2 separate regions of the Homo sapiens genome follow, and region 2 is linked to region 1. Evidence: fine-mapped expression QTL. A gene starts in region 1. The other region holds a variant in brackets. All regions are shown on one strand. Distances are between the middles of the regions.

What was found. PIP is the estimated chance that this variant, and not a neighbour inherited with it, causes the effect. A credible set is the group of variants that fine-mapping cannot tell apart.
Region 2: its variant is the best candidate, but not a certain one, in a credible set for the expression of KLHL24 in blood mononuclear cells (TOPMed, PIP 0.55).

The regions. Positions count from the first base shown.
Region 1 is chr3:183,634,285-183,637,192 of GRCh38, forward strand. It overlaps KLHL24 (kelch like family member 24), which reads left to right and starts at 1,339. Exons shown (of 8, transcript NM_017644.3): 1 at 1,339-1,509. LOC107986162 (a long non-coding RNA gene) reads right to left here and starts at 2,325. Exons shown (of 2, transcript XR_001741042.2): 1 at 2,251-2,325; 2 at 1-2,000. RefSeq lists an enhancer at 1,185-1,244 and silencers at 1,665-1,774, 1,785-1,854, 2,045-2,364, 2,415-2,744.
Region 2 is chr3:183,667,099-183,670,006 of GRCh38, forward strand. The region is part of intron 5 of KLHL24 (kelch like family member 24); the gene reads left to right. Among named protein-coding and RNA genes, the nearest start is that of YEATS2, 29 kb to the right of the region's middle. RefSeq lists an enhancer at 1-124. The variant T/C (reference allele first, on the strand shown) is at 1,672.

The DNA of each region.
Region 1 (2,908 bases):
AAAACCAAAAGCCATACAAGATGGGAAATTGTATACGATTTGTCTCAACAATGAATAATAAATACATGGTCTCATTAGCGTAAACATTAATGATTTAACCAGATTATGAGAAGGATAGCTTCCTTAATAGGAAATAGTCATACATTATTTGGAAATATATAAATACCAGAAGAAATAGCTCAAATAATTGAATAAGAGATGGAAAAGAGGCCTAAAAAGTATGTTTAAAAGGCCTGTATATAGGCCTTCCATATTATTTCCGCCTCTGGTCATCAGAACACAACGCCTAATTTAATAGAGGCATGACGGTATTCATGACATGTAGAAGATAGAGATTTTTAAATTTGGTATCAGAAACCAAAAACTAGTTAAATGGTTGCAATCATCCTTTAAAAGAATACCTGCAGGCGGGGCGCAGTGGCTCATGCCTGTAATCCTAGCACTGTGGGAGGCCAAGGCAGGCGGATCACTTGAGGCCAGAAGTTCGAGACCAGCCTGGCTAACACAGCCTCTACTAAAAATACAAAACATTACCTGGGCGTGGTGGCGGGCACCTGTAGTCTCAGCTACTCGGGAGGCTAAGGCGGGAGAATCGCCTGAACCCGGGAGGCAGAGGTTGCAGTGGGCCGAGATTGCGCCACTGCACTCCACCCTGAGTGGCAGAGCGAAACTCTGTCTCAAAACGAAACAAAACAAAAAGCTTGCAGACACAAAACGACAACACAATGTCCTTTAGGAACTCCATCTACCTTGGAAAACAGGGATTTGTGACAGCTTTGGTCGACGTGCATGTGCGTTTAAAATAAAAAGGTAACCTAGGATTTGATACCAGGGACAGTAACAGCTTTATCAAAAAAAAAGAGGTGGTTTTCCTTGCTCCTTCTAAGGACTGGGGTTTTAGTCTCGTCCACCCTGCAGGCCCTCAGGCCTGATTTCCGATTGTCTATCAAAGGGTCAAATAAAAAGCTCTCTAAGCTTCGACCCAAGCTTTAAAGTCGAAGGGCTGATCGCGGGCTTTTTCCTTGGGACGTGGCAGGGGCCTTTGAGGGAAGGAAAGAAACGACTCTGGCTTCTCACTCGGCTCCTTACACAAGAGGCATTTTTTTAACTGTCTCTGCTTAAAACAAGGTGTTTTTGAGTCAGCAGCCCTTTGGGTGGGTCTCGTCCTCTTGGGCACCCGACACCCACCCCACGGCGGGAGCCCCAGGTGGCCCCGGAGGCCACCGGGAAGCGTGAACTACATCTCCCAGGGTTCCCCGGGGCGGAGGACGCCCACCCGGATTGGCCAGGGTTCGCTGACGCTCAGTGTTTTGGCCCGGACGGTCACATGTTTCCTTTGTTGTGAGCTGCGGCAGAGACTGGTGGCTGGAGGAGACGCCGGCGCTGGAGAGTGCGCTGCGCCGCCCGCCGCTGAGGGACCGCGGGGTTAGCCACTGCTGGCTGCTTCCAGTGTTCGCCGAGAGGTACCGGGGGTGACAGCTCCGGGACCGGCCGAAAGGCGAGGAACCGGTCAGAGTCTGAGTCCTCGGGGGCGGAGGGGCGACGGCGGTCCTGACCACCGGGGTGTCTGCGGGAGGGCAGCCAGCGGCGGCCGGCCTCTCAGAGCCAGACTGGCGGTCTGCGGAGAGGCTGCAGCTGGGCTACAGGGCCCCTTTCTGAGGCGAGGGGCCTCCAGGGTTCACCTGGGGGGTCTTCCTCCCCCGCTTGGTAGCTACAGCCCTGAGGGAGGGCGCGCGCGCCTCCTGGCACTACGGCCCGGAACCGCGGCGCGGCTGGTGCGGCCTGGCTAGGGCGGGGTGGTTGCCGGGACTGGGGGTAGCCGCAGGTGCGGTAGGCTAGTCGCCGCGGGGCCGGGCGCCGCCGGGGGAGGCGGCTGGGCAGACGGGTGCTGCTTGTTGCCGATGGGCTGCGAACGGGGCGCTGCTTTTTATTTCAGGAAGCCCGGGGGAGTGCGACCGCCTCAAATCCAGCCTTCTTGTTTGGTGGGACGACCGTCGGTTCTGTCCGGGAGGAATGACGGGGTCAAGGTGGGGTCCCCAGGGCCGCGGGCCCGTGAAGCCCCATTAAAGCGATTGCGAAATGCACTCGGCACTGTCACCTGACCGTTACCCCCGCCCCCGTCCCCTGCGAGCCTTTGTTTACCACGATCGCGACACCCGGCCCGCTGCGGCCGTCCCCGGGGAGCCGGGGCGGGCGGGGGAGCGGGCGTTCCGCCGGCGCAGTCCCCGCCTAACCTCCCCACCTTCTTACCACTCCAGGACTCAGTTTCTTAATTTAGTTCCTAATGGACCCGCCCTCAAGTTCTGGACACCCCGGGTGAAGACTGTTAACGCGGCGGGGATTGGGCGCCTGCGGCAGCTTGTGGGCGGTACCCGAGGGAGAGTTCGAGTTTTTATTGGCGAGTTTTTATTGTCACTAGGTGGGCCTGCCCTGGGCCATTCTTCCCGCCCCCTTGAAGGTGATCTGGAGGACGCGCGGGAGCGCGCGCTGTCGCTGCTTTTGCAGCTGCGGCCCGAGTGGAGCCGGGTGGCGCGGGTGCGGGAGGCGCGCGCTCCCGCCCCTGCTGCGGGCGGCTGGTAGCCTCGGTGGCCGCCGCCGCCGCTGCTGCTGCCTGATCCTGCAGGCAGTTCTGGGCACGCAGAGATCGGCTACCGTGGCCTGCCCTCCGAGGACCGGAAAATTAACACCCTTTAACTAGTGTCGCGTTATCTGCCGGGTGGTTCGCAGGAAGTCCTGCGAACACGTTGTTGCCAGTTCTGTAAACGTGTTTAGATAGCTAAATATAGATCACAGTGCCACATCTTAGGGGGCCCCACGGTCACCCCTGAGGCAGTGGCTGTTCACAATTGATTTTAGTGGATTTTAATGATTAATCACTTGCTCTTGTGGGCAGCTTTTCAAAAATCAC
Region 2 (2,908 bases), 33 kb after region 1:
TCTCTTTCCCCACAGGGGTTTCTTAAAACTTCTATACTAGGCCAGTCGTGGTGGCTCACACCTGTAATCCCAGCACTTTGGGAGGCCAAGGTAGGTGGATCACGAGGTCAAGAGATCGAGACCATCCTGGCCAACATGGTGAAACCCTGTCTACTAAAAATACACAAATTAGCCGGGCATGGTGGTCCGCACCGGTAGTCCCAGCTACTCGGGAGGCTGAGGCAGAAGAATCGCTTCTGGCGGAGTTTGCAGTGAGCCAAGATTTTGCCACTGCAGTCAGCGTTCTGTTAGGAATCTAATTGCACAGCAGTAGGTGAGCAGCCACTGAGCGAGCTTTACCGCCTCAACTCCACCTCCTGTCAGATCAGCGCACATTAGGTTCTCATAGGAGCATGGACAGCACATATGAGGGATATCTAGGTTGTGGCTGCTTATGAGAATCTAATGCCTGATGATCTGAGGTGGAACAGTTACATCCCCAAACCATCCCATCCCCGACCAGTCCCCCACCAGCCCCCCACCCAGACCTGTGGGAAAATTGTCTTCCATTAAACCGCTCCCTGGTGCCAAAAAGGTTGGGGACTGCTGCGTAGAATACTAGAGCTTCTCAAAACAGTTTATATATTTTTATTTTTTGAGATAGGGTCTTGCTGTGTTGCTGAGGCTGTAGTGCAGCAGCACAGTCATGGCTCACTGCAGCCTGGACATCCTGGGCTCAAGTGATCCTTCTACCTCAGCCTCCCTAGTAGCTAAGACTGCAGGCACACACCATCACACCTAATTTTGGTATTTTTTGTGGAGATAATGTTTTATCCTGTTGCCTGGGCTGGTTTCAAACTCCTGGGTTCAAGCCATCCTCTTGCTTCAGCCTCCCGAAGTGCTGAGATTACAGGCATGAGCCACCATGCCCAGCTCAAAACACAGTTTAAAAGCTGTTAATTCCTAACGACCTGGATCTAGTGTGCTGCTGCTGTCTACAAGGCCAATGAAATAATGAGGACCTTGAGACAGATTTACTGGAAATAAAATATTAATAGAATCTTTTCTAAAACCATTTGGTTTGTTAGTACTTACTATATTATATATAGTGTTTGAGGCTGTGCCTCAAGAAGGACAAAATATTACTGGAAAAGAGGGGCTAAAATAATCCAGGGGTTGGAAGGAGATGCTGATACAAAGGCAAATGAAAAGTACTGATGTCTCAAAAACCATGTATGTATTGGTAAACTCAAATTTATTTGACAAAATAGTGTACTTGACTTGAAGATACCCAAAGCTTAGAAGCACTAAATCAATAAAGAAAAGGAATCATTCCTACCTTACACAGCAAGTACTCAATTCATGGAAGTCATTTTGCTAAAATTACAATATAGATTTAATTCAAGCTTATAAAACATACTTAAATTTATAAATACTCTGTTTAAGGAAACCTGGGATGGTTTAGAATATAGAATCTTAGGGGAGCACTCCCCAGTGTAACTTAGAAGTGTGTCTTAGGCTGCAATCCTCAAGAAAAAATAAAAAATTACCGGGTGCGGTGGCTCACGCCTGTAATCCCAGCACTTTGGGAGGCCGAGGCAGGCAAATCACAAGGTCAGGAGTTCAAGACCAGCCTGGCCAACATGGTGAAACCCTGTCTCTACAAAAATACAAAAAATTAGCTGGGCATAG[T/C]GGCGGACACCTGTAATCCCGGCTACTTGGGAGGCTGAGGCAGGAGAATCACTTGAGCCTGAGAGGCAGAGGCTGCAGTGAGCTGCCTGCTGCACTCCAGCCCGGTGACAGAGTGAGACTCTGTCAAAAAAAAGAAAAGGAAAAAAATCTTAGAGTAGGAAGGGATGATGGAATAATGGAGAATATTTAATATAACTTGGTCATCTTATAAATAACCCCAAAGAGATCAAGTCACTTCCCAAGATTACACAAAAAATGATAAAGCAGAGGCAAAAGCTCAGACTTTTCTTAATCTAGAGGCCTTTTGTCTTGATGCTCATGGCATGTATTATATTTTAATTTACACATGTAGGAATACGTATTAAAGTTTAATCCTCAAAATTATGCCATGTGATAGATACTATGATTGTCTACATTTTAAAATTGAGGAAATATAGCCAAGCATGGTGGCGGGCACCTGTAATCCCAGCTACTCAGGAGGCTGAGGCAGGAGAATCCCTTGAAGCCAGGAGGCAGACATTGCAGTGAGCTGAGATCACGCCATTGCACTCCAGCCTGGGCAACAAGAGCGAAACTCCGCCTCAAAAAAAAAATTATAAAATTGAGGAAATAAATTTGAGTCTCCAAAAGGGTAGATAAATTGCCCTTACATTGGATGGCAGAGCTGGTGATCAAAGCCTGTGCCCTTAATTGCTACATCGTGCCACAGGTTCCATACTCCATATAGCTGTGTGGACTTTTGTAAGTTACTTAACCTGTCTGAGCTGCATAGTGTTGGGGACACAAACTCACCAACAGATTATTTTAACATAATGTGAGAAATGCATGATAGAAGTGGCATTGAGTACTGTGGAAATTTGGGGGTGCACAGAAAGATAAATTGTGGACAAATTTGAAGGACAAGTTATGAAATGTGGCCTTGACCCTTAGACATTCATTGTTGAAATATTAAGAGGAACTGATAAAGTATTTTAGGAAGAATAATCTGTGGTTTAGAGAGAACAAGAGTGGAGGCCAGGAGGTTATTTGAGAGGAATGAAATGTTGTGGACCCTCAAGTGGGTGATGGCAGCGGGAAACGTAAAGGAAGGGGTATATGTGAAAGATGCTGTGGAAGAAGACTCAGTGGGACTTAATAGTTAATTAGCTATGGAGGGAAGAGTTAATGATGACAGTCCATTAAGAGAAATGTGAGCTGGGCGTGATGGCTCACGCCTGTAATCCCAACACTTTGGGAG